2 separate regions of the Homo sapiens genome follow, and region 2 is linked to region 1. The links come from fine-mapping of genetic effects on gene expression. Tissue or cell type: whole blood. Region 1 holds a variant in brackets; the other region holds the start of a gene. All regions are shown on one strand. Distances are from middle to middle.

What was found. PIP is the estimated chance that this variant, and not a neighbour inherited with it, causes the effect.
Region 2: FAM219B starts here. The variant in region 1 is fine-mapped to the expression of FAM219B in whole blood (TOPMed, PIP above 0.99).

What each region holds. Positions count from the first base shown.
Region 1 is chr15:74,814,865-74,820,121 of GRCh38, reverse strand. It overlaps LMAN1L (lectin, mannose binding 1 like), which reads right to left. Exons shown (of 14, transcript NM_021819.3): 2 at 3,811-3,965; 3 at 3,588-3,695; 4 at 3,432-3,490; 5 at 1,305-1,404; 6 at 850-970; 7 at 23-78. Among named protein-coding and RNA genes, the nearest start is that of LMAN1L, 4.7 kb to the right of the region's middle. RefSeq lists an enhancer at 1-266. The variant A/G (reference allele first, on the strand shown) is at 3,213.
Region 2 is chr15:74,904,686-74,909,685 of GRCh38, reverse strand. It overlaps FAM219B (family with sequence similarity 219 member B), which reads left to right and starts at 2,835. Exons shown (of 5, transcript NM_020447.5): 1 at 2,835-3,099; 2 at 3,321-3,408; 3 at 4,455-4,532; 4 at 4,974-5,000. The coding sequence starts at 2,886. RefSeq lists enhancers at 2,493-2,772, 2,614-3,418, 3,419-4,225 and a silencer at 2,833-3,132.

The DNA.
Region 1 (5,257 bases):
GGTAGGCCAGGGCTGGCATCACCTCTGGGCTGGGCTCACTCAGGCTGAAGGTCAGGAAGGACAGGACATCATGATCATCTGGAAGGGGACAGATGAAGGAGAAGTAAGACCCCTCCACCCAGCAACCCCCTCGCTCAGCCTTCACCCTAACCGCCATGATATCCCACCGAGGCAAGAGGGGTGACTTTGGGCCACCGTCTGATGCTTGTCTTGCTTACTTCCTAGGAAAGGTGTGAGGGTTGACAGGTAGACGGGTGGGTGGTGAGGGTTGAACCTCACACTCAGTCAGAGGCAGGCCCCTGTGGCAGAACTGGACGATCCCAAAACATCCTGGGCTAGAGCCATGGCAGCAGACCATCTGACACTCTTAGGCCCCCAGAGCACAGCTGCTACTGGTAGTAGCAACTGCACAGTGGCCACCTTTCCAGCATAGCTCTGACCATGTCACTCTCCTCCTCAGAAACCAGACCAAGGTCCTGGCATTCAAGGACTCCCACGCTCTGGTTGCCCTCAGCTTTCCCGCTGTGGGACCCTCCGTGGACTCTCCATGGTGTCACATTTCTTTGCTCCATTTTCCTAAATGCCCCTCTTTGCTGTCTGTCTTCCACTTGTCCCGCAACTCACAGCTAGGGGCACTTATGTGGCCAGCACTGAAATCAAAGCTTCTCTTGTTTTATCCCATTTGAGACTTGCAAGTCTCAAGGCAGACATGACTTCTCCCAAGGGTCACAGAAGCCCAGGTCATGTGGTGAAGTGGCTGACGCCACCCCAGTGCTCTTTAGAAGGTGTGCTGAGGGTGATTTATTCATCACTGCCCTTCTGCTCTTACCTGTCCAGTGGGATCCTCACCTGCCAGGGTGCCGGTGGCTGCTGAGACCCCAAAGAAACCTCCAGGGACCAAAAGCAGGGGCCCCACATCCACACAGAACTCACCTGGATCACTGGGAGTGAGGCCACTGTTCAAGGACATCTGAGGGACATGGAGAGAGTGAGCAGTGGGGGGGTGTCCCTACCTCTGACTCCCTGGCTCCCCTGGCCGTGGGATGGCAGGTGGCCCTAGGGCTTGGTATCAGAATGGCATGGAGGTGACCCGCACTCCTGGTCTCATGTGAGCCCTTACATGTATGTGCTCTGGGTGAGTGTTAGGATTCTGTGTAGGGATGGAGGATCCCCTGTGGATGTTGGCCCGTGTGTGCCAGGGACCTCACGTGGTGTCACAGGCACTGGTGTGTTGGGGCCGTGGGCACGCACACATAGCAGCTCTGTAACTCAGAGCCCTGTCAGAAGCAGGAAGGGTGACTCACGCGCAGCCTCTGCCCCCAGTAGGTGATCCGTGCTCTGAAGGGGTGTGGCCGGTTCCGGAAGTCCCAATGACAGGAGCCCAGCCCTTGGCTAGCTCCATCCCTGTGGGCAGTTTGTTCATTTGTTTGTTTTTGAGAAAGAGTCGCTGCCCAGGCTGGAGTGCAGTGGTGCAGTTGTGGCTCATTGCAACTTCTGCCTGCTGGGCTCAAGTGATCCTCCCACCTCAGCCTCCCAAGTAGCTGAGACTACAGGCATGCACCACCATGCCCGGCTAATTTTTGTATTTTTAGCAGAGATGGGGTTTCACATTGTTGGTCAGGCTGGTCTCAAACTCCTGACCTCAAGTGATCCACCTGTCTTGGCTGCCAAAGTGCTGGGATTACAGGTGTGAGCCACCATGCCTGACTCTTGTGGGCAGTTGGAATCCAGCCAGGATATACAGGACTCAAGGCCTGGACAGTGAGGGCAGTCCCAGAAGCCACTCTGCCCAGATTTGCTGTGCCACCTCCCTTTCCGCTGGGCGAGCTGGCATGGGACATGTACCTTGTCTAGCTTGAGTCTCCCTTGTTGTACCCTGCTCCCTTGGCAGAAGAGAGAGGAGCAGGGGAAGCAAGCCCTGCCTGACGGAGTGTTGGGACTTGGATTTACAGAAGGGGCCAGGGGCCTCCCTGTGGCCCTTCCTTAAGGGGACAAAGGCCTGGACCAACAATACAGTTTCTGCCCTCCATTCCCCCGACCCACCTATCACCCTCGTCCTATCACCCTTACGTCCCTCCTTCTTCTCTCTCTCTTTTTTTTTTTTTTTCTGAGACGGAGTCTTGCTCTGTTGCCCTGGCTGGAGTGCAGTGGCGCGATCTCGGCTCACTGCAACCTTTGCCTCCTGGGTTCAAGCGGTTCTCCTGCCTCAGCCTCCCGAGTAGCTGGGATTACAGGTGCTCGCCACCACACCCGGCTAATTTTTTTAATTTTTAGTAGAGACAGGGTTTCACCATGTTGGCCAGGCTGGTCTCAAACTCCTGACCTCAGGTGATTAGCCCGCCTCAGCCTCCCAAAATGCTGGGATTACAGGCGTGAGCCACTGTGCCTGGCCTCTCCCTCCTCCTTCTTTTAAACTCCAAGTCCTCTGTGCCTCTGGCTTCCTTTTCCTCTCCCAGCTGCCAGGGCTCAGAATGCAGCTGACTCAGGACGGATGACCTGGACATGTCCCGGCAGCCAAGGACAATGTGACCAGGCTGCCTCCCTGACAGGTCGGCTCGGCAGGCTCTGGGGAGTCAGGAGAAGAGTGTTAAACGCTGAGTGTCTCTGGACACCTCAGGCTACTCACAGCAGAGCGTCTGACAGTGCCGCCTTCCGCCAAGAGGGAGGCAGCACAGGGCAGGGGAGAAGCCAGCACCACAGCAGCCACCTGGGTTTGTGCCCCGAGCTATGTGACCTTGGGCAAGCCATCTCATCTCTCCAAACCCCAGTGTTCCCATCTCTAAAACGAGGATGGTAATTGGAACGACCTCATAACAATGTTATGAGGGTTAACTAAGACAGTAAATGAGAAGGGCTTGGTGCTGTGCCTGGCATACAATCAGCTCACTCCATAAATGCAGGCAATTACTCTAATTGTTATGAGCCGAGAGAAGGTTGCTGAGAGACACTGACAAACCGGCCCAGCTACTGAGGAGGCAGTAGGGCCGGGGAGGGACAGAAGCCAAATCATCAGGGGAAAGGGAAGGGACAGCTATGCAGGGAAGGGCGAGGACCCTCCAGGGGTAAGTCTGGGCTCAAAGTTCAGCACTGCGCACGGCACATCCCTTCCCCTCTCTGGGCTCAATGTCCTGACCTGTAAATGGGACGAATAACCCCCCACTTATGGAGGGTGTTGGAGATGGGATGAGATCATGGGAGCAAAGATACTCATC[A/G]CAGGCCCCAGCCTGTGTCATTTCACCTGGGGCTGCTGGGTCGAAGGAATCAAGCCCCAGGGGGGCGGACGTCGGCTAAGTGAGAGAGTCCAGCAAGTATGGCGGCCCGGCAGGGTGGGCCCCCTGCTGGAGGAGGCTGGGGCAGGGGCTCGGATGGGGGGGATGGGCCCCTCCCAGTGCAAAAATGGAGGTGAGTGGTCAGTCCAGACAGGCCCTTACCCAGGCTGCTCAGAGGGGATGTGCCCGTCGCTGGCCAGCACACGGATGGCAGGACTGTCCTGCAGGGAGGTGAGAAGCAGCCTGAGCCGCGGACATGGCGGGAGGGGGAGGGTGTGAGCGGGCAGGCGGGCTGGCAGGCAGGAGACCACTACGCACCTGAGTATCCTCTGCCGGAGAGTCAAAGAAGATCCCGATGCCGTCCCACGAAGCCAGCCCCCCAAGGACAGAGCCTACATGGCCCCTGCCCCGGGTGTACCACACGGCCTGCAGGTCCCCAGCCCCTCAGCTCAGGGAACCGTGTGGGATACTGGGACCCCGGGGCTCATCACCCGCCTCCCTGACCCACCCCGCTCTGTCAGCTCTGGGAGAGGACACTCACCATGCCCTGGGCTCCCCGGCGCCCCAGTCCCGTCACCCTCATCTGCACCTCTACTTCCCAGGCAGAGAAGGGGACAGAGGCCCTGCTCCACACGGCGCCACTCCGGTTCCTCATGGATGGCGTCAGCCGCACTTCCTCCAGGCCCAGGATGGCGTCTGTGGACAAGGGCAGCTCAAGCCCCAGGCTCCACTACACCCCATCTCCCCCTTCACTCTCTCACTTGGCCCGGGCTGGGCTCCCGGAAGAGAAGGCGACAATGCCAAGGCCTACCATTAAATAAGCGGCCAGCCAGGGAAGCAGGAGTCAGAGCCCAGCACAGCTGGAGGGGCCTTTGCTGGGGAGGGCAATGAATGCCAGCACCATCCACGTCGTCAGTGAAGCCTCACCGCAGTGTGTGCTGTCTGTTTTTATAAGACCCCATCTAACAGATGAGGAAGGTGAGGCTCATAAAAGTTAAGGAACTAAGTGGATTGGATGGAATTCAGCTCCATATGACTCCAAAGCACAAGCTTTTTCCACCACGAGAGAGATTTGTGTCTAACCCTTCCCATTTCTCAGATGACGAAACTGAGGCCTTGTGACAAAAAAGGAAGTGCCTGAGACCACAGAACACAGGAGAGCACTTTAGGAGGGAGTAACTGCAAGAAGGCCCAAGACTCTAGGCTGTGGCCAAATGAGGCCAGAGCTTCCTGGTGGACAGGACCTAGGGGGCATTCCAAGGTGAGGAAAGCAGGAAAGCAAAGATGTGAAGGTGAGAACCGGCCCACAGGACTGCGATGAAAGAATGCAGGATGGAGTATGTGTGTGAGAATTGCCACTGGCGGTGGTGGGGCGGGGAGGAAGGAGCCCTGCATGGTAGGAAAAAGGAATGGGAGAGAAACTGAGGCAGTCTTGGCAGGAACTGGGGGCAGGGAACTCAGAGGCCCTACTCGAGCTCGCTCCCCACCCTCCAACCTGCCAGCCTGGAACCTGGCCCAGGGCCCAGACTCTGCCAGGACGTTCTGGAGGCAGCTAATCCAGCCTGTTTGCTCTATAAAGGCCAGGGATGGGGGTAGGGAGGCTCAGAGCTGCAAGGCCACAAGTCCCAGGGCCTCTGGAAGCTGTCACTGCCTCTGAAATCCTTGCAGAAGGCTTTCAGCCTTACAAGGCCTGTGGGTGAGACCTTGCCCCAGACCATGGGCTCCTTCAGCCTCACTCTGCCTGGTATCTCTGGGCTGGGCACAGAGGAACATCAGGGTGAACGAATGAATGAACAGACAATGCACACATCACTGGGTGATCTTGGAGAAGGTGCCTCTGCTCCCTCACATGATCTGTGACACCCAGATTTGGCAAGGCCCATAGCAGTGAGTGTTGTATAAGTTTTGCCATCCTGGTCCTGAAGCAGGGCCCAGCTTGGTGCTGTGAGAAACAGCCCACCTTTTTGTTACCTCCTGTGTCTCTATGA
Region 2 (5,000 bases), 90 kb before region 1:
CTCACACCTGTAATCCCAGCACTTTGGGAGGCCGAGGAGGGCGGATCACGAGGTCAGGAGATTGAGACCATCCTGGCTAATATGGTGAGACCCCGTCTCTACTAAAAATACAAAAAAAAATTAGCCAGGTGTGGTGGCGGGCGCATGTAGTCCCAGCTACTCAGGAGGCTGAAGCAGGAGAACGGTGTGAACCTGGGAGGTAGGGCATGCAGTGAGCCAAGATCGCGCCACTGCACTCCAGCCTGGGCGACAGAGCAAGACTCTGTCTCAAAAAAAAAAAAAAAAAAAAAGATCTCTTCCAGCCCCAAAGTTCTATGATACTAGTTAACTAAAAGAGGGGAAATAGGATATTAATTCAACAAATACTTATTACTATAACCTTATGCTAAAAAGTGAATAAGGTCTGCCCTTGGGGAGTGTAAAGTCAAATGAGAGAATAAACACTAAATCCTTGTAATGCTGTATAAGGGTTGTGTAAATAATAGCATATATTTCTTGAACACTTACTATTTGCCAGGTGTCATTCTAAACACTTTACAACTGAACTTCACAATTCCACTTCCATTAGATGGGTTTTCTTATCTCCACTTAGCTAAAGAAACTGAGACATAAAGAGGTTTAATAATTTGCCAGTAGGTAACAGAGCAAATAATTTGGCTTCAGGGTCTATGTTCAATCAGTCAGCAGTTAACAGCATTATTGATGGAAGATTGGGAGGAGTGTGCATGAAGGCTGTCACACTTTTGCTACAAGTTCCTAGTGATCTTGTGACATTAAGTGGGTTTAGGTCGGGGTTCCCAAGCCCCAGGCCATGGATGGATACTGGTCCATGAGTGAGCAAAGCTTCATCTGTATTTACAGTGGCTCCCCATTGCTCACATTACCACCTGAGCTCCGTCCGCCTCCTGTCAGATAAGCCGTGGCATTAGAGTCATATAGCAGCATGAACCCTATTGTGAACCACACATGCAAGGGATCTAGGTTGTGGGCTCCTTATGAGAATCTAATGCCTGATGATCTGTCATTGTCTCCCATCACACCCAGATGGGACCGTCTAGTTGCAGGAAAACAAGCTTGGGGCTCCTACTGATTCTAAGTTGAGTTGTATAATTATTTCATTATATATTGTAATGTAATAATAAAGTGCACAATAAATGTGCTTGAATCATCCCAAAACCAGCCCCCGCATTTCCACCCCGTGGAAAAACTGTCTTCCACAAAACCAACCCCTAGTGCCAAAAAGGCTGGAGACTGCTGGTTTAAATCACATTTTCTTTGGCCCTTGGTGATGTCCACATCAGCATAACCAGGAGAAAACCACTTCGTTGTTTTTTTGTTGGTTTTTTTTTTTTTTTTTTTTGGCTGGGGGGTGGTTGGTTGGTTGTTTTTGAGACAGCGTCTTGCTCTGTTGCCTAGGCTGGAGTGCAGTGGCCTGATCTCGGCTCACTGCAACCTCCGCCTCCTGGGTTCAAGCGATTCTCCTGCCTCAGCCCCTGAATAGCTAGGATTATAGGCACCCGCCACCACGCCCGGCTAATTTTGTATTTTCAGTAGAGATGGGGTTTCACCATGTTGGCCAAGCTGGTCTTGAACTCCCTACCTCGGGTGATCCGCCTGCCTCAGCCTCCCAAAGTGCTGGGATTACAGATGTGAGCCACTGTGCCCGGCCAGAAAACTACTTCTTTGGAGTCCACAGGCAACTGGGTACAAATTCCAGGTTTATCACTTAACTGGTAAACTTGACCAAGTCTAAGCTTCATTTGTTTAACAAGAATAACTATTGGCTTCATTGGGAGGTTATAACCATTAAATACTAAGTTGAGCTATATGAACCTGCTGTTTCTGGAGGCAAAAACAGTCTAACATCATGGGGAGTGGGGGGAATCTACCAAAATGGTAAGGATTCCTTTGTGCTTTTGATTTTTGAAAACTTCAGCCCTAAATTCTTCCTTTTCACCTCTCTTGCCCAAGGCATAGTGCCACCCAACGGTCTGCGTGGCCCTGGGAGCTCGGAGGTTGCACACTGTTGACCTACCCTATTGAAGCCAGTAAGTTAGTCAAGGGACAGCCTCATGAGATTTGGGAGTTCTACAAGGATCTGGAGTTTCTTTCCAGCCAGTCACAAGCACATCCCTTGGGGGCTAGAGAAGTCAAGAGCCCTGACACATAGCCTACCACACACAGACTCAGAGTGCACTTTCACCCTCCTTTTCAACGCCTATTTGCCTCACTGTACAATGAGTAGTGACATTGGCTCTATTTTTAAATGTGGAAACTGAGGCCTAGAGAGGGTCAGGTCCTGTCCAATGTCACAGGCACCAATTGGTGTTGGAAAGAAGGTGGGGTTTGGCGTCAGATGGATCAGCGCAAGCACTGCCTCTAGATGTGTCACCTTCACAAGGTTCTTTAACTTCTGGGGCCTGTTTCTTTTGCTAGAAAAGGTCGCTGATAACGCTTGTCCTCATATGACTCTTCAACCCAAGTCTGCTCTCTGGCAGCCCCACATGTGGGGAGACCCCCAAGGAGACACTGCGAGAAGCACAGAGTGCGGCGCGCCAGGACTCAAACCGTGGGCACCCGACCGACGCACACGCGCAGCCCCACGACAGTATCAGTATTTAATTTCCACTAGAGACAGAACTAAGCCTAACCATCACCAGGCTCAAGCCGCCTACCCCAAAACCGAGAACGGAACTGCCCGGTCCCCCCGAAAAGAAGGGCGGAACATTTCGGCCAAGTCCTCAGACTACCGAACCGGAGAGCTCCGAAAGGGGACTACCTGCGCCTGCGCACCGCCATCTTGTTAAAAGAGCCCGCCTCTCCCTCGGCCGGTCACTCTTTCGCCACGGGCGGGGTTGCACCATCCGGCAGGGCGGGGCCCGGCCATGGCGACCGCGGAGCCCAGCGGGCGCGCGTTGCGGTTGTCTACCCCGGGACCCCGGCCCAGCGGGGCTCGGGACCGCGCGCCGGGAGCTGCGGGGCCACCCTCCGGGCAGATCGGTAATAGAGCCCTCCGTCTGGGGGAGCGCACCCCCGCGGCCGTGGAAAAGCGGGGGCCATACATGGTGACGCGCGCACCCTCCATTCAAGCCAAGCTGCGTGAGTGTGGCCCGATGGTCGGGGGAGGTTTCTCCCTGGGCGGGCGGCCGCGTCCCCAGGGCGGGTTCCGGAGCTCCGCTGGGCCTCGGCCCCGGAGGGAAGGGGTTAGCTGCAGCCTGCTCTCGCCCCTCAAAATCCGTTCGGAAAGAGCGGCCTCCCAGCCTTCGGGAGACGCGGCGGAGTGGGGAAGACCCGGCTGACCCGGGTCCTTTAACTTCCAGAGAAGCACCGGGACCTGGCCAAGGCCGTTCTGCGGAGAAAAGGCATGCTGGGGGCCTCGCCGAACCGCCCAGACTCTTCAGGGAAAAGGTCTCAGCAGGCGCCACCTCCTCTGTGCCAGCAGCTTTAGAGAAGGCTTTAATCCCCAGGACGGAGGCAGGGTGCTCTGGTTTAAGGCCGAGCTAGCGATTCCCCTGATGCAACCTGTCAGGTTCACTATCTTTAAAATGGGAAGAGGAACAATCTCTCTTTTCCTTTAAGGATGTGATAGGATCAGATAAAGGGCTTCGGAATAAGGGAGTTCTGTGAGTGCACAGGCTCATTCACTATCATTCTCCTCCTCTGTTAGGGAGGAGAATGGTGGCTGGAGTCCCCAGCAATGAGGACGAAGAGCAGTGTGGGAATGGCTAGACCTGTTTTTGTTTGTTTGTTTTTAACAGAATAGTAAACTCGGAGCTGCATAGAACCTTATTCAGTGCCTCCTTTTACAGATGAGGGTTGAAACTCGGAGAAGTGAAGGTTAACCCTAACCTTTTACCCAAAGACTTGCAGTTTTTGTGTCCTCTGATTAAATAAGTGGGGAGAGGGTGCTTTTCCTAGATCAGGCAAGGGGAGGTGTGCTTTTTTCCAAGACCTATGGGAGGAGTAGAATACAGGCCGGGCGTGGTGGCTCACGACTGTAATTCCAGCACTTTGGGAAGCCGAGGCGGGTGGATCACTTGAAGTCAGGAGTTCGAGACCAGCCTGGCCAACATGGTGAAAGCCCGTCTCTATTAAAAATACAAAATTAGCTGGGCACGCCTGTAGTCCCAGCTACTCAAGAGGCTGAGGCAGGAAAATCACTTGAGCATGGTAGGCGGAGATTGCAGTGAGCCGAGATCGCGCCACTGCACTGCAGCCTGGGTGACAGGGCCAGACTCTGTCTCCAAAAAAAGAAAAAAAGAATGAGAACATACACATTCTGAGGCACTGTAGCCAGGTACATGGAGCTGCAGGCAGTGGTGGCTGTGACCAGGGAGAAGGCAAGTCAGTAGTGCAGTCAATTCTTTCTCCTTCAGGGCGAGGACTCTGCCTATCCCTGTGAAATGCCTATGCTTTCATCTATGTTTGGTCTCTTCTCCCCCGTCTCCCCTCAGGTCAGTGAAGTTTAACAAGGGCTATACTGCTCTTAGCCAGAGTCCAGATGAAAACCTGGTGTCCCTCGACTCTGACAGGTGAGTGCTCCCCTTGGAAATACCCCCTTGGGAAGCAACTTGGCTGGGACTGAAGATCGCCTGATGCCTTTGCTTGTTCCCTGTCTCCTCCAAGGCCCTTCATGTACATTCCAGGGCCGTTCTCTTCTGAACAATATCCCTTCCCAGGATGGCTTGGTTAGAAGACTCATAGGTAATCGTGCTGCTCTAGAATTCGGAGCACCAATGTCCGGGGGATCATCCTGCCCTGTTATGTTTGCATTGTTAGTGAGAGTGACCCTGTCCCTGCCAGAACCAATTGAGGGAACCAGTATTATTCAAGGCCTGTTCGGACTTGAGTTCTGTTGTGTGTGGCCTTTGCTTCAAAAGTCTTCCAGATGCCCTTGCATGCTCTCCGCCTGATGATTTACAGCTGTGCACCACAGGTACCTCCCGGAACTGACTGTTTTCCTCTTCTCCTAGTGATGGGGAGCTGGGATCCAGATACTC